Linked DNA regions of Homo sapiens: regions 2 and 3 are each reported to be linked to region 1. The links are microRNA targets in miRTarBase. Many come from high-throughput screens and were not tested one by one. Region 1 holds a microRNA gene; each other region holds the end of a gene's coding sequence.

What was found. Region 1 holds the annotated microRNA hsa-miR-4706 (AGCGGGGAGGAAGUGGGCGCUGCUU, at 2,271-2,295, opposite strand). A microRNA usually pairs through its seed, bases 2 to 8, with sites in the 3' UTR of a target mRNA and lowers its output. Matches are read on the target gene's strand: a 7mer-m8 pairs with bases 2 to 8, a 7mer-A1 pairs with bases 2 to 7 and ends in A, and an 8mer does both.
Region 2: the mRNA of HOXD3 is a reported target of hsa-miR-4706. Seed matches in the 3' UTR shown: 7mer-m8 at 5,957-5,963.
Region 3: miRTarBase lists DIRAS1 as a target of hsa-miR-4706. Seed matches in the 3' UTR shown: 7mer-A1 at 3,353-3,359.

The regions. Positions count from the first base shown.
Region 1 is chr14:65,039,974-65,046,991 of GRCh38, reverse strand. It overlaps MIR4706 (microRNA 4706), which reads right to left and starts at 2,304; the gene lies at 2,223-2,304. It overlaps CHURC1-FNTB (CHURC1-FNTB readthrough), which reads right to left. Exons shown (of 14, transcript NM_001202559.1): 10 at 6,073-6,202; 11 at 2,549-2,681. FNTB (farnesyltransferase, CAAX box, subunit beta) reads right to left here. Exons shown (of 12, transcript NM_002028.4): 8 at 6,073-6,202; 9 at 2,549-2,681. It also overlaps a transcript of MAX not described here.
Region 2 is chr2:176,171,315-176,178,332 of GRCh38, reverse strand. HOXD3 (homeobox D3) reads right to left here. Exons shown (of 4, transcript NM_006898.5): 4 at 5,235-6,816. The coding sequence ends at 6,059. It overlaps HAGLR (HOXD antisense growth-associated long non-coding RNA), which reads left to right. Exons shown (of 3, transcript NR_033979.2): 2 at 839-1,001; 3 at 1,641-5,144. It overlaps HAGLROS (HAGLR opposite strand lncRNA), which reads right to left and starts at 167. Exons shown (of 2, transcript NR_110457.1): 1 at 80-167. RefSeq lists enhancers at 1-770, 6,102-6,712.
Region 3 is chr19:2,711,312-2,718,329 of GRCh38, forward strand. It overlaps DIRAS1 (DIRAS family GTPase 1), which reads right to left. Exons shown (of 2, transcript NM_145173.4): 2 at 3,256-6,564. The coding sequence starts at 6,495. The coding sequence ends at 5,899. Among named protein-coding and RNA genes, the nearest start is that of DIRAS1, 6.6 kb to the right of the region's middle.

The DNA of each region.
Region 1 (7,018 bases):
CTTGTTATAAATATTTTTCGCACCTTTTTGCTTGTTTTGTTTGTAGAATTTCCCTGTTTCTGTAAAATAACTTTTGTTGTCTTTTTTTATGCAAGAAATACCTATTAACTATAGAAAGATTAGAAAATACAAACAGAAGCAAACATCACCTGTAACTTCACATCCTAGATACTTTCTATGAATTTTTTGTAGTCAACTCTTCACTAAAAATGGGATTCCACACATATTGCTTTGATATGATCACAATATATTGTGACTATCTTTCTACACTGCATCCCCTTTTGACTCCCAAAGTCAGTATTTTGCCCTCCTTTCAACACACTTCCCTTCTTTACAGACTCCTGTCTGTTCCAAGTTCAAGAGATGCCCTGTGTCTGAGAAGACAACACAGGCCTTCTCCCAGCCAATGAAAAAAGCTGGAAGCACCAAGATTCATAGGCACCCTTTTCCATAGACAAAGCTTTGAATGCCACTAAGCCCCCTAGAACATGTGCTACAAGAAACAATTAACCAGCAGCCCCCCTGGAAGACTTTGACAGGTGGTGCTCCTGTTATAGCTCATTCCACATTTCCCTGGGATTGCAGAATTACTGAGTCTTATCCATGCCAGGGACAGGTTTGTAAAAGACTGACCATTTTACCAGGGGCTTGACCTCACCAGTTCCAAATAAAGAGATCACCATGACCCCAAGTTTTTTTCTATCTTAGAAATGTTGGGCCAGGCACGGTGGCTCACGCCTGTAATCCCAGCACTTTGGGAGGCCAAGGCGGACAGATCACCTGAGGTCAGGAGTTCGAGACCAGCCTGACCAACATGGAGAAACCCTGTCTCTACTAAAAATACAAAATTGGCTGGGCGTGGTGGTGCATGCCTATAATCCCAGCTATTTAGGAGGCTAAGGCAGGAGAATTACTTGAACCCAGGGGGCAGAGGTTGCAGTGATCCATTGCACTCCGGCCTGGGCAACAAGAGTGAAACTCCGTCTCAAAAAAAAATAATACTAAAATAAAAAATGTTTGACTTGGGGAATTCCTGACTTCCCTACTGGTGGTCAAGGCAGAGACTGTGCAGGCTCCAAAGTCAGTGCACTTGCTGACAGTGCACTTGCTGTGTTCCAAGGGTAAGTGCCTTATATGCCTTAATACTGACACCTAAAGCCCAGTGGGCCCAGGCCGGGAAAATGGGACAGAGGCTCTGCTTACTTTAATTCAGTGTCAGAAATGGTCACAACTCAACAACTCAAAGGAAATTAAGAAACTAAATAATGAGGCTCAGGGCCGGGTGCGGTGGCTCACGCCTATAATCCCAGCACTTTGGGAGGCCGAAGTGGGCGGATCACCTGAGGTAAGGAGTTCAAGAACAGCCTGTCCAACATGGTGAAACCCTGTCTCTACTAAAAATACAAAAATTAGCCAGGTGTGGTGGCACGCGCCTGTAGTCCCAGCTACTCAGGAGGCTGAGGCAGGAGAATTGCTTGAACCTGGGAGGTGGAGGCTGCAGTGAGCCAAGATCGTGCCACTGCACTCCAGCCTGGGAGACAGAGCACGACTCCATCTCGGGGGCGGCGGGGAGGGGGGAAGACGGGGGGTGGGGGGCTCAGAAACAGGAAAAAAAAGTATGGGGAGGGGCAGAAAAGAATCTCATCTTTTACATTTGAGCAGTTACATTATCCAACTAAGTCCGAAGAACAGCTTCTCTTTGGACCCAGGGATCTCATTCCAAAAACAGATCAGCAACCAGCAGGGCCCCATGACTTCCTCTCTCCCACAGGTCTACTCAGAGACACCTGCTCTCACATCAAGTACACCAGAAAGATGGTGCAGGAGTTAGCAGGCAGACTGAGGTTTCAAGAGATAGAGAGAGAATGTTCCCAGACTTTTTGCTCACTAACTACTTCGGTTTTGCGTTCCCATTTGAGACCCCACAGAAACGAACGTGGATTTCTCTACTCCAATGGTGCAGGTGGAACAAACTCCCATTTAGGCTTATTCAATGAATGTAAAATAAAACATTTCTAATAGTGACAACTCTGCAGCCAGTCAGACACGGCGAGTCTCTTCTCCATGGTGTAGGGGCAACCCACCCCTACAACCCACCCCTACACATGGGTTCTGGTTCTCTACCCCTTTACGCAGTTGCCTTTCCTGTTGCTGTTGCAACAGTGACTGTTGCAACACTGAGGGTTTTCAGCTCTGCCCTGCACCCAGAGGAGGTGGCAATCACCACAGAGCCCAGGACAGGAGTGGGCTGCTCCTTCCAGATAACGCAGAAGCAGCGCCCACTTCCTCCCCGCTCCCCGTAGCAATTTCAAGGAAGCTCATTCTGTCGCAGCCAATTTGAAGAAGCAAAGAATGACACTAAACCAATGAAACTAAATCTTACTCTGCATTCGCATGCCCCACGGCATGAGGTTCCACACTGGGCACTCAAAATCCAGGATAGACAGAGCTCATTTCAACCCCTCTAAAAAAGCACGCTGGGCTTCCAGACTTTGTGAGTAGTGGAGGGAAATCATCCAGCCCCAAGTGAACAGCTCCCCAGGCTCACCTTGGGCGTGCAGTGCGCGGTGGAGCAGGGGCAGGAGCCCCGCCTGCCAGAAGGAGTAGCAGCCATCCACCAGCTTGTTGCAGCGGCCCTGAAATCCTCCTTCAAATCGCATCTGCCGGCTTGTCACCCATTGCTGAGGAGACACAGATGGGAAAGGCAGTTGTAGGCTAAAAGAGACAAAATCCAGCCCGACAGAATCTCCAGGAGTCAATCTGTGGGATGGAGGGTTTCCCATCTTGTGGCTTCTTGGCACTCTAGTTTTGGTGCTCTGGTTTTCTTTCCTTCCCTCCCCACACTGCCATAGACACAGAGTGAAGCATTTAAGCCAACGCTGTAGAGGCATCCAGCACTGATCTCTGCTCAATGCCTGGCAGACAACTACCTTTTCCTGGGTTCCAAAGCAGTGCCAGTGCTGAGAAGATAAAGAGGCCAAGCTGGTTTGTAAGGAGACCTTCAAAGTCTCTTAATAAACATGGCTTAAGTTGGAAATTGAAGGCAAGACTACCAGTAGCTCATTTCTCATTACTTCCCTGCTCCGGGGAGTTTATTAAAAGCAGATAAATGGAATTTGGTACTACATTTCTTTTTTTTTTTTTTTTTTTTTTTTTTTTTTTTGAGACGGAGTCTCGCTCTGTCGCCCAGGCCGGACTGCGGACTGCAGTGGCGCAATCTCGGCTCACTGCAAGCTCCGCTTCCCGGGTTCACGCCATTCTCCTGCCTCAGCCTCCCGAGTAGCTGGGACCACAGGCGCCCGCCACCGCGCCCGGCTAATTTTTTGTATTTTTAGTAGAGACGGGGTTTCACCTTGTTAGCCAGGATGGTCTCGATCTCCTGACCTCATGATCCACCCGCCTCGGCCTCCCAAAGTGCTGGGATTACAGGCGTGAGCCACCGTGCCCGGCCTGGTACTACATTTCATCAGATGATCTCAAACTGCTCCTGACTTTTACTTGGCACCTGGGGAAATTTACCCAAGGTCTCTTAGCAAGTCACTAGCAGGCCTGAAAGCAGAAGCCATTCATTCTAATTACCAAATGACAACTCTGCCCAGTCTGTGGCTGATATAAGAAAATCTTTTACTTTGAAGCTGTAAAATAGGTCTTGGTCTTGATGTCACTCAGCGGTCACACACGATACCACCATTCCTTGCTTATCTACAAGTTTTCTAAACACACTCTACTACAAAGATCAAGATAGTCATGGGTTTGGTCCCTCAGAATGAGCAGAACCAACTGGCTGAGCAGATATGACATTTCCATTTCCCTCCCTAGACCACCTAGGCCGTTCCAGCCACGGACTTACAGAGCTGCCTCACTCAACTGAAAGGGTACAGGGGAGGGTACTTCCTGTTTCTAGAGTCTTACTAGGTAAAGGTCCTGAAAGGAGCCACTGGGACCCTTGATGGAAGTGGGGGCCAGCCCTCCCCTAAAAGCTGTTGTTTAGATTATTCCCTCTTCAAGGCAACACCTGCCCATAGAGAGTCACAGTCACAAATGCTTAAAAGAGACAGAAAACACTGTACTGCAGGTTCAGGTACTAATATATCCTCGGTTGATCTTAAATGAACCAGGGCTTCCAGCATGTAATGGAAGTGGGCTAAGCATTACTCAGGCAGAGAGAAAGCAGGCGCTGCAGTGGGAGTCGGTTCCTCATTTCTACTTACCGCAGGGCTTAAGTGTTTTTAAGCAGACTAATTTACTTTTTCCAGTGCCTAAGCCCATGGATTTGTTCTGTTTCCTTGGGCTATAGGAATTCATACTTCAGATATGGGTCCTACTTCTCCCAAAGCAAATGGAAGGGAGTAGTCTGGATTAGAGCAGGGGTCCCTAACCCCCAGACCATGCCAGGCTGCACAGCAGGACATGAGTGGTGGGTGAGCCAGTGAAGCTTAATCTGTATTTACAGCTGCTCCTCACTGCTCCCATTACTGCCTGAGCTCCACTTCCTGACAGATCAGCAGCAGCATTAGATTCTCATAGGAGCGCAAACCCTACTGTGAACCGTGTATGCCAGGCTTCTAGGTTGCACGCTCTACATGAGAGTCTAATGCCTGATGATCTGTCACTGTCTCCCATCACCCCCAAATGGGACTGTCTAGTTGAAAGAAAACAAGCTCAGGGCTCTCACTGATTCTACATTATGGTGAGTTGTATAATTATTTCATTATATATTACAGTGTAATAATAGAAATAAAGTACACAATAAATGTAATGTACTTGAATCATCCTGAAGCCATCACCCCCCGTCCCACCCCCAACCCCAGGTCCACGGAAAAATTATCTCCCACAAAACTGGTCCCTTGTGCCAAAAAGATTATTACTGTGGGTTAGAGGGACACTAACATTTATTAAGTACCTACTATGTGCCAGGCTGTTTATAAATGTTCTCTCCTTTAACCTTAAAAAAATAAGGATTGTTATCCCTACCTTATAAAAGAAAAAAATATCAAGCTAAAAGAGATTAGACAATTTGCCCAAGGACTCATGTCTCAAATGTAGTAGGGACAGGGTTCAAATCTAGAACACTGTCTTTATAACTGAGGCACTCCCTAATCACATTCCTTATCTCTGCCTGGGAGATGGGACTTTTTTGTTTCATGCCTTATTGGTGTTCAGATTTTAAAACATCTGAGAAACTCTTAAGTTCAGCATACAAAGTTGGCTGTTTCAGCATGAGCCTTCAAGCCTTCATGAATCTTTAAAAAGACTACACCGGGGGAGGCTTTCTGAAGGTGGAGGCAAGACACTGCTGGTTACATGTCTACAGGGTACAACAGAAACTCTCCAGGAAGCTCACGATGGGCCGCATAACGGGAGGCTGGCATCTGAACTCAGGGAGAGGAGGTGCATGTCAGTTGCAGCTGGTTTGCTTTGACGTCATGGTCAGGGGGTACATGCTCCCCAAATGACATGACGGGGAATGCCTTCTCCCTGGTGGCCGTGGAGGTGTGTGTGTTTGTGCACCCACTGATCATTTAACTACAATCTAGTGACTCCCTGAAGCTGACTGCTTTCTGAGTTTCTTCTGAATACTGGCCAGGAGCGTGGGGTCCAGACATAAATGTTGGGCTGCCTTCTCAATGCAATTAGCCAGCTCTGCCTAAACAACTCATTTAAATGTAGGTACTAAATGTTTACACAGTGCAGCAGGTAATAAAAGTTTGGTTTCGAAATGCTGCAAAGCTCTTCTTGTAACTTTTCCTCTTAGGAGGTTCTTTCTATAACACACGATAACCTCTAATTCTACGAAACTGAAGTATAAGGAAGGTACTCTGCTCACACCAGATGTCTGCAGCACACAGTCTATGTAGTCTACACACTATGTAAAAAGCTCTAAGCAGGAAGACAGAAAGGCAGAAGGGGGAGCCAAGACAGAGCAGCTGCTCACTCCTTCCTCTGTGTTGGAACAGAGCTAACTCTCTTAGCCCTTCCCATAGCCAAACTCTCCTGAAGCCTGCATGTCTGAGTACAATCACATCACCATGACCTGGGGCCTGAGAGGGGGATGGCTCAAAAGATACTTACTAATAAGCTCTTCAAGTTCAAGGAACGTTCCCTCTTGAGGATTACCAGCGCGGCCAGGCCACAGAAGGTATAGCCACCATGGGCTTCCATCCCTGGTACCCCGCCAATGCCACCTTCCCAGTTCTGACACCTAAGAAGAGATTGAGAAAAGCAGAATGAGTGGCCAGTGAGTGGACGTACACAAGACCAGGACCATCCTAGGTGGCAGAGAAAAAGTTCACTCAGATTAAGGTGTGAACCATCACAACTATGAATGAAAAGATGCCAACTAATTAACTTTTGGAAATGTCTTTTCAAAAAAAAAAAAAAAAAAAAGCTGGGCCTGGTGGCACCCATGTGTAATCCCAGCTGCTCAGGAGACTAAGGCAAGAAGATCACTTGAGGCGAGGAGTTCGAGGCTGCAGTGAGCTATGATCACACCATTGTGCTCCAGCCCGGGTGAAAGAGTGAGACTAGGTCTCCAAAAAATGTAAGTATAATAAAAACTGTAAAATGTTAAAAACCCAGACACTTAGAAACAGCCTACTTGTGTAAGAAACATAATAATTCAAATTATTACTCTTTGGGAAAAAGTTATAAAATCATACATATACATATATGTACATATATACACATATATATACATATATATATATACACACATATATATACATATATATACATATATATATAGTGATAACCATCAAGTTAAAATAAAATTAAAGAGTGATTGTTGATTCTAGTGATCTTTTATTTTTGAAACAGGGTCTTAACTCTGTTACCTAGGTTGACTGCAGATCATGGCTCACTGCAGCCTCAACCTCCTGGACTCAGGCAATCCTCCCACCTCAGCCTCCTGAGTAGCTGGGACTATGGGCGTGCCCCACCATACCCGGACCATTTTTTGTATTTTTTGTAGAGATGGGGCATTGCCATGTTACCCAGGCTGGTCTTAAATTTCTGGCCT
Region 2 (7,018 bases), not on the chromosome of region 1:
CTCCACCCCAGCCCCTTCTCCAGTCCTCCTCGCGGGCGAGAGGGGACGCGGCCGCCAGCCGGTAGGGTGATTAACTCACCGTCTGTCTTTGCAAAAGTGTTCCAGGTGGATCAGGAGCGCCAGCCCACCCCGCCCGCAGCCTGGCCGCTCGCTGAGGCGCGGAGAGCGCGGAACGAGCGCGCGCATCACGTGGCGGCGCGGACGTTTGTGCCGCGCGCCCGCCAGACCGCCCAGGAGGCGGCGGCTATTGTTCCCCGCAGGGGCCCGGGGCGCCCTGAAACGGGGTCCACGTCAGCCCGCTCCCGAGCGTGTCCTCAGGTCTAAGGACGGGTGGGGCTTCCTTTGTGTGTTCTCTGGAAGGGGCTGGGATGGCGTCGTTGCTGCCCCAAGGGGTAACCGAGGGGGATTGAGGGAAGATGGTACCAGCTCCCTAGAGCTCAGCTCACCAGACCTACTCTTCCGCTCGACCCTTGCAGAGGAGGTGGGGACGGATATGGTATTTGTAGGGCAGCGCTGTGAACAATGGAGCCATCAAAAAGGCCTTCTCCCAGCCTCCTCACCAACCACGGACATTCCTGGCCCAACAAGACCTCCTGGCCAGGTTTTGAGCCCTGCTTCCCAGGTAAAAACACTGCCTGTACCAGAGCTCTCCATGAATTTTGGTTTAAATTAGGATTTAAATTCTTCTGGCCCTTACTAATGTTAAAACCCAGCTTTTATGATTTCTCCAGGTAGTATTCTTTCCTTAAAATAATCCAGACTAGCTATAGGAACCAATCAGGACATTTTGCCCAAGATCTAGGACAGAAAGACTCATGCAGTAACTCCTGCCTTACAGATCTGGGGACCCTTCACCTGCCTCTACTACTGCAAATGATTGGATATTCGTCTGACTTGGCTCTTCCCTAATGTGTGGAACTAATTTTGTTCACTCTGTTTCATGCTGGACCTGGCCTGAAAATGGGCCCTTATATTGTCTTTGCACTTTCCAACTTGCCAAGGTAGGTGTGAAACCTGAGGGAAGTTTTTAGGAATAGGCTTTAGGCCAGGTACTTAAATCCATTTGTTCCCAACCTTGGACTCCAAAGATAAGGGCATTTGTAGCTGGAGTAGAAAAGAAGGGAACAATGAGAACTAAGATTTCATCCTCTGTGATGATTCTTATCATTCACCGTCCTTCCTCTCCAGCATCACCAGTGCAGAAAGTGCAGAGGACTTATGTACCCAATCTTTTTTTTTTTTTTTTTTTTTTTTTGAGATAGAGTTTCACTCTTGATGCCCAGGCTGGAGTGCAATGGTGTGATCTCAGCTCACTGCAACCTTGCCTCCCAGGTACAAACGATTCTCCTGTCTCAGCCTCCCAATATACCCAATCTTTCTCCTTTCTATCCAGGCCTTCTGCAAGAGAGATCTAAGAACCAGCCCTCAAAGATGGTAAGGGCTTGGCTAGTGACAGCCCAGTCTCAGCTCCCTGTGCCCAAAGTGTCGGAACAGGGCCACTCAACCCAAGCCCTACATATATACTCTGGGAAGTTGCAGTGCCTCGAAGTGATCAGGCCATAGTCCTGTGAAGACTGGGGTCATCCATGTCCCTTCCTGCCTACTCACAAACTTCTGTTCTTCCTATTCTTTTCTTTCAGTTTCTGAAAGAAGGACCAAAGTAATGCCAAGAACTCCCAGATGAAGAGGACCTTCCTTAGACCTATAACAGATTCACTACTTGACTTCAGAGGGAAGTTTCAGCTAATTCTCAGGAAAAGGTCAAAACAGGCCTGTGACTGTCCCTTGAATACTGAAGGTATAAACAAGCTTCTGGCTCCTCCAGGTCAAGCAGAGGAACACTTTTATTAGAATGAAGGGTTACTTCTTTGTTATTCAAACACACACCCACACACATCCTCTGTAGTCTCCCTAATGAAAAACCTCAACAGATGGAGAGCCTGAGCTCCCAAGTCCGCAGGCTGAGAAGATGCACTTCACTCAAGGGCCAGTGGGCTGGTACAGACTAGGGAAGAGAAAAGGGACAAAGGCTGCTAGTATAGGTAATCACTATCTTTTAATACTCCTAACACATAGAAATTCGAAAAATCTTGTTCAGCAATGTTAGCAGCCTGTGAGCCTCGGAAACTAATTTGGCTGATGTGTCTCTGATAGGGAGCTTGGGGCTGCACCAAGGGGAAACATTCTCCTCCTGTATTCTCTCCTCTCTCTCGTTTGAAAGCCTGTACAAAGAAATGGTACAAATGGATGGTTAACTTAATGATTCCATCAGAGGCAGATTTTTCTCTGTCAGGTCCCTGGATAAGGTGGAGGTCTGAAAGCCAGGAGACAGAATATGTACTTAATCGCCCTTTCTGACCTGCTTACCAGTGACCAGGACTACTCTCCAGGCCTTTCTTCTGCCACTTCCCCATTCTTCCTGGCTAGTTCAGTTGGGTCTCAGCACTTCAACTCCTGGCTGGATCCTGAGTTTTTCTTGGTTGCAGGGAAAGCTCTCACTGTCTGCATCTCCTTCCCCACCCCCACCTCCCGTTTTGCAGCTGGCCATTCTGGCTGCCTCACAGCTATCCTGCCTTAATTCATATTTGATTGCCTGGACAGAACCACCTAGAATGTCCAGACGACTGCCACCCCTCAGCCATGGGCCTGAGATCCTGCCCTGACCCCTTTCTTCAGACCCCAGGAGGACCCACAATCTCCCTGATCCCCACCTTCCCCAAAGTAGTCTCTAGGAAAAAAGCAGAGCTGGCTAAGGCCTGAGACAGAGCCATTTCTTCCCCTTGGGCAAACGAGGTAGACCCTCCCAGAGACCAATGCCGGAGAGGCCCGGATCCGAGCTCCCTTTATATGGCCTCCCCCATCACGGATCCCGTGGGAAAACCTGACACACAATGGCGCGGCTGCTCCGGGCACCCTCAACCCAGCGCCCTGCGGCAAGGCCTGGAGCAGCCTGGTGGTCTTGGTGCGCTCCCTTTGCCCTCCCCGCAACCCTCTGCGAGCACTCGTCCCAGGAGAGAGACCCTGGCTAGGGTGGAGGTTGCCTCCCGCAAAGGGCGCTGTTGCTGGGGCCTCCCCTCCCCCATTCTCTTGTTTTTCTGCTTCTGAGACTCGGGAGGGAGGCGGCAGGCGCCTCCGCAGCCGATAGAGCAGCTATTGTGACCTTCCCTTGCAGAGCGGGAACCCAGCCGAGTGTGTACCGCCGGCGGTGGCGGGGGAGGAGGCGACTGTGTGTGCAAACCTCAGTCGGAGAGGGGGTGGCGCTGGGAAATAAAGGTTTGCAACCTCAGGCAGTTGGGCCCTTCAGAGGGCGTTTGGTTGTGTTTAGACTCGGTTGCTTTCTAACACTAATTGCAGGCTCAAAAGGAGCGGAATTTATTGCGAAGGCCAAGGCGGCTTGTTTATAATTTATGAAGTTTTAAATGGCTGTGCCGCGGGCCCCAACTTTCTCCTGGGCTGGCAGCCGCGCGGAAACGCGCCCTCCCCCGGCTCGCCGCCCACCCCCACCCACGCCCCTCAGATGAGTCTCACGCCAATGGCAGGAACAGATCCGAGCTATTAGAAGTCTCGGGAACCTCCAGAGATGACAGAAGGTGGCAGATTTGGTCCAAGCCCTCACCCCACTCGAGAGGAGGGCGTCGGGGAAAGCTGTGGCTGCCTGGAGAGGGAGCCCCTGATCCCACACTTCCTTGGAGCCTGAGTGTGAGAGGAAGCTAATGTCAGCCGGGCTAGACACCGTTTAAAGTCTAATCCATGAAACCCTAAGCCGCAAATGACACTTGGGGCTTTGCAGACACCCGCAGACTCAGCAGATACTCCTGCGGTAACACACTGTGCTGGAAAACGCCTGGAGCCATGACACATTACGTATTTTTATTATTATTTATGGTAGGAAGAGGAGATGAGGGAAAATCGGGCTGAATCTAAGCAGCCTGACAATTCAGCTAGTTAATATTTAGCCAGTTAAGAAAGGTGGTTGTAATCCCTGCAAGGCAGTGAGCTCTCCTTTGATTTCTCTAATAGCTTAAAAAATAATTTCTTACAAGACAATTAGAAATTCTGCCTATGGATGCAAATTTCATAGAAAACAATGTTAAGCCTTGAAAGTGGGTAAAATGTGCCTTCGATTGAAGTCATTTATTCTGTTGATACACTTCTACAACATATATATTTTAAACCTGCTCAGATAAAGTGAAATTTAGCAAAAGGATATCCCCTCCCACCCCCAAATCTAACATGCCATTTTAAAAACAGCACAAAGGAACAAGGAAACTAAATATTATTTTGAGCCATCATTACTTAGTGAAATACAAACATCCAAATAGAAACGATTGTTGTTCCACCAGAAGATTAGAAGTTAAATTATTTCCACACAATAGGAATTTCACTTCGTGTCATCGGGGATGTAGTAGGAGTTGCATTATTTGTCAAACCAAATAGAGATGCGTGGGCTGACTTTGCTGAAATACAAAAGAATTGAACCTTATCTGAAGGCGTTTTCTAAGTGGCCCCTCCCATAGAAGCCGGGAAGTTGTCCACCCCTAGCAGAAGCCACATTAATATTTACAAAATGGTTATAAATCCTTGAAGACATTTTTGCCCATTTTGTATAAGAAACAGGAGTAAACAAGGTGTTTATACTTGTTATGTTTCATTAATGAAATATTATTACTTTACATCTTGGGGAATGTTTGTTTTCTTTAGAAATGAACTAATGATCACTACAAAGGAAGAATTCATGACAGCATTTCCTAGAGAAAAAGCTTAGGTACGCGTCTCCAAATGATGGTTTCTTTTTCTACACCTTAGCTTTTTCATAGCTCAATTCTTCTTACAACTTCTCTTGTGTTTTTTCTTTGATTGTCAGTTTTCTTTCAAAGTTTATTTTTTGTTACTTAATGCAGAAAAGTGAGCTCTGGTCTCCCCAGTGTAAAAGTCGATTGTGTCTAGAAAGAAGGCAGTAAAAACAGCAAAGCAGGCGCTGCTTTCAAAAAGCCCTGCCCAAATCATCCCGCCCAGAACCTTCTTAGGTTTGCATCCTCATTTCCCCCTCCCCTAATTTCAATAGCTGGAAAGTAATCAAGTATCCCGAGAACCAATTTATGCACTAGACTCCAAATAAATAAAATATTTTTTTCAAAGTGTCAGTCTGTTTCGGGGCCTTCCATGGGGATTGTGCGAGATAAAGGCATAGTGATCTGCTTGCAAGTGTGCATGATTAACACAGATACAGTTCCGACTGGGAAATTTTTTTATTCTAAATATTTGTTCCAATAGTACCAGACAATTTGAAATCAATAAACTGTGGTGAGGACTGTGGTTTTTGAGAAATGACCAAAGTGTGTTGTGCCACGCCACCGGGCTTCCTGACTCTACCCATGAAGGACAATTTGCGGTCTTAATCCTTTATGTCAACTACAAACACCAGCCACGGTTACGACTGTTCAAAACTACTCTCTCAACTAGTTCAGACCAGGGGGACTAAGGAGGTGAAATGTGGCCCCCACGGCCTGGAAGCGAATTCCTAAGCTCGGCTGGATAAATCTACAAATATACACATAAATACATTCAGACAAGGATAAATAATCAGGGAACGAAATGACTCGCTTCAAATAATAAATACAGATAGTTTAGTCCGATGCAATCCTTACGGCACAGGAAGGAGAATATAAATTAAGGTCTCTGAAACTAAGCTAGACGCGGGCCAGGCCCAAGACTCTCCAAGCTCTGGTCCCTCTGCAGGGCGCGCCGCTGATGGGTCTCAGACTTACCTTTGGGACACCATTACCAGATTGGAGTCCCTTGGTCCGCAGTATGTGGCACTGTCAAATTTACAGGGAAGGATCCTTGCGGCTGATTTATGGCGAGTCACCCAAAGGACGCCCATGGAGGGGAGGCCCGGTCGCCTGCGCCTCCGCCGCTGGAGGCCTGAGACCCGGGAGGCGGCGGCAGGGCAAGAGCGGGGAAGGGGGTTCCCGAACTGCCCCGCGGGCCCCACCCTCTACCCCACCACTACAGCAAGAGAGGTAATTTTGCCGCGAGTTCGGGCTGGCGGCGGCCGCTACAGATGCGTCAGTTTGGGAGCCTCCGGCAGTCGTCCCTGAGACGAGTGGTGGGCCGAGAGATCTGTGTAGGTGGGATGAGGGTCGCAAGGTCCATGGTGGTGGTTGCCTGGAATCTGCGCGGCGCAACTGTAGTCCACGCTGGCCGACGACGGGTGCGAGAGGTGGCCCAGGTTGAAGACAGGCCCGGACGCGGGCGCCATGGACTCGACGAAGTTGCCGCCCACGTACACCGGGCTGCCCTGCAAGTTGGCGCTGGCGAAGCCGCCGCCGTTGCTCGCCATGGGATGGGGCTCGAACTCCGGCGCTGCGTAGCGCTTCTGTTGTGGCAGGCAGCTGCTGAGTGGCGCCGTGTAGGCGGCCAGGCCGTACATATTGGGCTGTGATTTGGCGAAAGCAGGCGGCGAGGGCGCGTCGTAGGCCAGGCCGGGCACTGGCGGCAGCTGGCCGGAGTAGGCCACGTGGCCAGCGGCGCCGCCGAGCGGTGGGCTGCGCTCAGGGGACTGGCTAGCCGGCGAGTGCAGGATGCCCTTGGCCTTCTGGTCCTTCTTGTACTTCATGCGCCGGTTCTGGAACCAGATCTTGATCTGGCGTTCCGTGAGATTCAGCAGGTTGGCCATCTCCACGCGGCGCGGCCGGCACAAGTAGCGGTTGAAGTGGAATTCCTTTTCCAATTCCACCAGCTGCGCGCTCGTGTATGCCGTGCGTACCCGCTTGGATGCTGGGCCTGGCGGGCTCTTGTCCTCGCAGCTCTCTCCTGGGCAGGGAGGGAGAGAGGGAGGGCGCTGAGCGAGTGGGTGGGGACCCTCAGGACTGGAGAGGGGTGCTTCCCTGGTTCTCTTTTCCTCCTCCCTCCCCCCACCTCCAATCCTGGCTGGGGAGGGGAAGGGCCGTTTGAGAGGTATGATTCCAAGGGGGAATTCACCTACCTACCAACCCCCTACTAGGCCTACCTATCA
Region 3 (7,018 bases), not on the chromosome of region 1:
GTTCCTGCCTTTGTAAAATAGGGCTCTTAGTGCCTGTCCGACCTCCTCAGCCAGCTGCGGTAAGTACACGGTACAGCGGGGCCCTCGAGGTCTCTTGAGGGAAATGCTGAAATGTTCCCGTAACCCCCTGGCATCCTTCTCGTGAAAGTCCAAACTCTTCCCACAGCCCACCAGGCACTGTTTGACCCCTGCTGGCGACCTTCAACTTCACTGGCCACCTTCCCTCTCCTCCCTCCACTCCTCCCAGCCAGGCCTCACCTGTTCCTGCTTTGACACCTTTGCTGGTCCCCCTGTCCAGTGCTCCGTCCCAGGTCCCCTTGGAGCTGGCCTCTCCCCCGCTTCCCACATCAGCAAACACGTCAGCTTCTGAGTCAGACCTCAGAAGGCCTGGGACTCCCAGCCACGTCACTTTTGTGATGCAGGTTTATCTTCTGCGTAGGGAGCATGTGTCTGCGATGATTTGATCCACTTCTTCATAGGGAATCATCGTCCCCAGTGGGTTATGCTCTCTGAGCAGGCAGGGGGCTCTGGGGCTGGTGTCTGTCACTGCTGTGTCCCCAGCATCAGGGCAGGACCAGGCATAGAGTGGTGCCTCTTACATACTGGATGAATGAATGAATGAATGAACCAATGAATACGTGAATGAATGATGTCTCAGCTCTTCCTTCCTTCCAGTCTGGTCCTGAACAACGCCTTACCTCTTCAGGTCAGATCCCTGCCCCAGCCTGCTCTGGGTTAGGGGTGAGGGGTGGGGGCTGGGCTGGCAGATGGGACAAGCAGGGAAGGTCCCCTGACATGGTTTGGCTCTCTGTCCCCACCCAAATCTCATGTTGAATTGTAGTCCCGTGTTGGAGGTAGTGCCTGATGGGAGGCGACTGGATCATGACGGTGGATCCTCATGAATGGATCCACCCCTCAGTCCTGTCTCATAATAGAGTTCTCACAAGATCCGGTATGGCACCTCCTCCCCTGTGCTCCTGCTCCGGCCGAGTGACCTGCCTGCTCCCCTCTGCCTTCCCCCATGACCGTAAGTTTCCTGAGGCCTCCCAGAAGCAGCTGCTGCCATGCTTCCTGCACAGGCTGTGGAACTATGAGCCAATTAAACCTCTTTTCTCTATCATTTACCTGTATCAGGTATTTCTTTTCTTTTTGTGGGGCGGCGGGGGGTTGGACAGAGTTTCATTCTCGTCACCCAGGCTGGAGTGTAGTGGCACGATCTCAGCTCACTGCAAGCTCCGCCTCCCGGGTTCAAGTGATCCTCCTGCCTCAGCCTCCCTAGTAGTTGGGATTACAGACTCCCGCCACCACGCCCAGCTAATTTTTTGTATTTTTAGTAGAGACAGGGTTTTGCCATGTGAGCCAGGCTGGTCTCAAACTTCTGGTCTCAGGTAATATGCCCTTCTCGGCCTCCCAAAGTGCTGGGACTACAGGCATGAGCCACCGTGCCCGGCCTGGGTATTTCTTTATAGCATTCCAAGAATGGACTAATACAGTCTCCTCTGCCCCAACGCCACTGGGCCTGCAAGGAAATTGTCCACGTTCACAGAAAGTCCAGCTGGGAGGATGTCCCCAGCTAATGTGCACAGAGTGAATCTGGAAACCAACACCCTAGAAAAAAGCCACATAAAGACATCTCCAAGCAGAGTCCCAGACGGGTCCTGCCTTGCCTCCCCTGCTGCATGTCCTCAACCCACTCCCTCCACCTCCCCACCACCATCCCATCCTTCGCTTCCTACACAGGTCCCCTCCTCCACTCTTCACCCCATCCCTCACTTTCTACACCCACCACCTCCTCCACCCTTCCTCCCATCCCTCACTTCCTCCACCCATCACCTCCTCCATCCTTCATCCCATCCCTCACTTCCTACACCCATCGCCTCCTCCACCCTTCACCCCATACCTCACTTCCTACACCCATCACCTCCTCCACCCTTCACCCCATACCTCACTTCCTACACCCACCACCTCCTCCACCCTTCATCCCATTCCTCACTTCCTACACCCACCACCTCCTCCACCCTTCATCCCATCCCTCACTTCCTACACCCATCACCTCCTCCACCCTTCATCCCATCCGTCACTGTCTACACCGATCACCTCCTCCACCCTTCATCCCATCCCTCACTTCCTACACCCACCACCTCCTCCACCCTTAATGCCATCTCTCACTTCCTACACCCATCACCTCCTCCACCCTTCATCCCATCCATCACTGTCTACACCCATCACCTCCTCCACCCTTCATCCCATCCCTCACTTCCTCCACGCACCACCTCCTCCACCCTTCATCCCATCCCTCACTTCCTACACCCGTCACCTCCTCCACCCTTCATCCCATTCCTCACTTCCTACACCCACCACCTCCTCCACCCTTCATCCCATCCCTCACTTCCTACACCCGTCACCTCCTCCACCCTTCATCCCATCCCTCACTTCCTACACCCACCACCTCCTCCACCCTTCATCCCATCCCTCACTTCCTACACCCGTCACCTCCTCCACCCTTCATCCCATCCCTCACTTCCTACACCCACCACCTCCTCCACCCTTCATCCCATCCCTCACTTCCTACACCCGTCACCTCCTCCACCCTTCATCCCATTCCTCACTTCCTACACCCACCACCTCCTCCACCCTTCATCCCATTCCTCACTTCCTACACCCACCACCTCCTCCACCCTTCATCCCATCCCTCACTTCCTACACCCATCACCTCCTCCACCCTTCATCCCATCCCTCACTTCCTCCACCCACCACCTCCTCCACCCTTCACCCCATCCCTCACTTCCTACACCCATCACCTCCTCCACCCTTCACACCATCCCTCACTTCCTACACCCACCACTTCCTCCACCCTTCATCCCATCCCTCACTTCCTACACCCACCACCTCCTCCACCCTTCACCCCATCCCTCACTTCCTACACCCGTCACCTCCTCCACCCTTCATCCCATCCCTCACTTCCTACACCCACCACCTTCTCAACCCTTCACCCCATCCCTCACTTCCTCCACCCACCACCTCCTCCACCCTTCATCCCATCCCTCACTTCCTACACCCATCACCTCCTCCACCCTTCATCCCATCCCTCACTTCCTACACCCATCACCTCCTCCACCCTTCATCCCATCCCTCACTTCCTACACCCATCACCTCCTTCACCCTTCACCCCATCCTGCACCTCCCCACCCTTCTTGATCCTTTACAGGCGGTGAGCTGACACCCCACGCCCACCACAGAGACAGGGCGCCATGCTGGTGGGGAATGCAGGATCCACTTTTTTATTGCAGGAAGACTATGTCTAGAGCGAAGGCTACACAGACCCCACGATGGGGGAGTGGGGGCACCCACATGCGGGGGGAGAGGGGGCAGGGGCGGAGTCACAGCAAGCATGGCCTGGCACAGTCCCCAGCACCAGGGATGCCCAGGCAGGATGGGCCAGCAGCCAGGACAGGCTCGGGTCCCCTCCTATTGCAGATGCCCTCTCTCCCCAGGGTCGGGCAGGGCCTGAGGTGGGAGAGGCCTGGAGGTGGGCAGGGCCCCAAGGAGATTGTGCTATCAGGGTGTGTCCCTGAGAAAGGGCCGCAGACCCCTGCCCAGCCTCACTCTCTCCGGCACCTTCAGAACCCAGAAGCTACTGCCAGGACAGGAGAGGAGGCAACATCAGCTGCTGGTGGGCCCTGGGCCAGCCCAAGTTTTGGGGGGACCCAGCTCTGCTCAGACACAATGCCAGCTCTTCTGGGAGCCCGGTCCACGTGCTGGATAGCAACACACACGCACGTGTGCACACTCCCTCTCTCTGAGTGTGTCCAATAAACATTTGTTGAGTAAACACTCACACGAACACAGAGGAAAACAAACATGCTTGTACCAAATCAGACACGAGCAATCTGTTACCTACATAGTCCCACCTGGCCACATGACTACAGAGACACATGTGTGCAATCTCTCTCTCTCTCTCACTGCACAAAAGGGCGTGCGCACACACACACGTTGCTTCCTCACACCCAATAAGACCAAAACCTCCATCTCACCTTCCCTCACTAACTTAGCTGCCATGCTCCGAGCCCCGCTGTGGAGAGACCCACATGGTACAGAACAAAGGGCAGCTTCCAGCCAACAGCCAGCGAGGAACTGAGGCCTTCAGTCTTGCAACAGCAAGGAACTGAATGCTGCAACAACCACATGAGCTTCTAAGAAGCAAATCCTTCCCCGATCAGGCCTTCAGATGAGACCTCTGCCTGGCGAATGCTTTGATTGCAGCCTCCTGAGATCCCAAGTAGAGGACCCAGCCAACCTGCACCCAGGCTCTTGACCCACAGAATCTATGAGATAATAAGCATGTGTTGTTTCTGGTTGCTACATTTGTGGTCATTTGTTACACAGCAGTAGCTGACTGATACAGATTTGGAACCGAAAGTCACATTGCTAGAGTCATGTTGCTATAGAGTGGAACACAGATCGTGTCCCTCAATCAGGACAAACATATTTACAGATAAATGCTCTCAGATAAACCATATCACCCACTCCCCAAAATATAGTCATGCTCATACAGGCACAAAGATTCACACAGACACCTCACACATATCCAGTCTTGCTGACAACCACACACAGGTATCTACAACTACCCACCTCTCTGTATACCCTACACCACTATTACACACACAGACTGCCACAAAAACATATCATCCCAGACAGACACACACAGGTATACACGCAGATGCACTTAGATACAAGTCACCCATCCGCGCACCCCAGGTTGCACAAATACACCATTCCATAGCCACTTCCGTGTATGTTGGACACAACCCTGTGGGGTCACACGAGTGTGGTGTCACTCAGACTCTCTCAAAAAACACCCAGAACCTCATGGCTGCAGGTACACTCGACTCCAGGACGCCACCTTCCCGGGCAGGCCCTGCTCTCTGGGGCACAGGTGGTGGGGAGGAAGTGGGTGGGGCAGACCTCTGTCCGGGGCGCCCTCGGATCCTGCTGGTGCTGGCTCCCATCGGCTGTCCCCCCACGGGGGTGTAATTGATGTATCTCTGGCCGGGGCCCCGGGTACCCCCTCCTGAGCACCCCAGGTCCCCACCCGCCATGCGTTGCTAACGTCTCTGTCTTGGTGGAAGAGGCGGGTCCCGGGTGGGCGGTGTCCGGGAAGCCCCTCCACGCCCATGGTGCCTCTCCAGCGGGGCAGTTGTGCTGTGGATGTGGCTGGTCCCGGGGGTGGGATTCGGGGCTGGCAGGGGCACTGCTGCAGGCCCTGTGGTTATTGCCTGGTGGCCTGAGGCCCATCCCACGGGCCCCACACCCCACTGTGAAGACAGAGGAGAGAGGTGCGTCTGGAACCGGAGGAGTGGGCACAGATCAGAGGTCACGACGGGCCGGGTGGGCTTGGGTGTATGTTAACACCAAATAGGAGAAAAAAGAAAAAAATATCTGAGGCCGATGTGCATTTTCAACTCCCCCCTCCCCCAGAAGGTCACAGTGATCAAATGTGAGGGACAGGACGCGCAGGTCTGGCTGGGGACACCCCAGGGAAAGAGATGGAAACGGGGAAACGCAGCCTCCTCTGGTCCTGGTGGGAACAAGCAGCTCCTCTTGCCAGCTCCCCATCCTGTTTTCCCATCTGCAGGACAAGGGGGCCACCTCCGGCTCTTGGTTTTGGAGGGTACAGACAGAACAGGAGGGTGGAGAGAGAGCAGGGGAGGAAGAAAAGCCCCAGCCCTGCCTCGGGGTGGGCAGGGGCAGCGGAGGGGGGGGCGGTGGCCTCGGTTTCCCCAGCCGAGGTGTCGGAGGAAGGATGAGAGAAGAGGAGGAGGCCGAGGAGGGTGTCGGTGTTGGGGGAGGCAGCGGGGGTCAGTGGGGGTGGGCGGCGGGCAGGCGGGCGTTCCGGGCTCACATGAGGGTGCATTTGCCCTTGACGCGGTCTGTCCTCTTCTGCTTCCCGGAGCGCTTGCCGTCGATGTTGAGGCTCATGTTCCGGCGCGTCTCCAGCGTCAGCAGCTCCTGGAAGAGCTCCTTGACGTTGTAGTTCATCTTGGCCGAGGTCTCCATGAAAGCGCACTTCCACTCCTGGGCCACCGCCTGCGCCTCGCGCGTGTCCACCTCCCGCTGCGTCTCATCGCACTTGTTGCCCACGAGCATCACGGGGATGTCCTCCACGCTGCCCTTGATCTGCACGATGAGCTTGTAGATGGGCCCCAGCTCCTCCAGCGACTGCTTGCTGGTGACGGAGAACACCAGGATGAAGGCGTGGCCCTTGGAGATGGACAGGCGCTGCATGGCCGGGAACTGGTGGCTGCCGGTGGTGTCTGTGATCTGCAGCGTGCACACGCTCTTGTCGCAGCTGATCACCTGCCGGTAGGTGTCCTCGATGGTGGGGATGTAGGTGTCGCGGAACGTGCCCTTCACGAAGCGCAGCACCAGCGAGCTCTTGCCCACGCCGCCCGCCCCGAACACCACCACGCGGTAATCGTTACTCTGTTCCGGCATCTTCCCCGCGGCGGGTGGGCGGCCGGGGCCGGGAGGGCTGGTGCCAGCTGCAAGAACCCCAGACCGAGCCTGTGCAGAGAGGAGGGTCACACGTCAAAGGCCACCCAGGCTTGAGGGGACAGCCCCACGCCCCGGGGAGGGAGGAGGACATGGCGGCTTCTCAGAGGAGGTGGCTGCCGTGCCTCCTGCCTCCTGAAAAGGCCCATTTGCTTGTGGCTGACTTTGCAGTTCTGTCCCACAGGCGGGCGCACAGCCAACACCCTTTGCTTACTTCTCCCTAACAAAATCTGGGGCCTGAGCTTCCCCGGGGGACGCTGAGCTAGGAGAGGCGTGGGAGACGCCGGGATGCCCACGAAACTCCTTCCCCGGGTGTGGGTGTCCCTTCCAGGCTGTGCCAGCTTCCCCCTCTCTTCCCAGTGTGGCAGGGGCCCCTGGAAGCTAGCAGGCCTGGCTTCCACCTCTCGCTCCACACCTGCCTGGCTCTGAGACCTTGCCGAGCCATCATGCCACCCTGAGCCTGTTT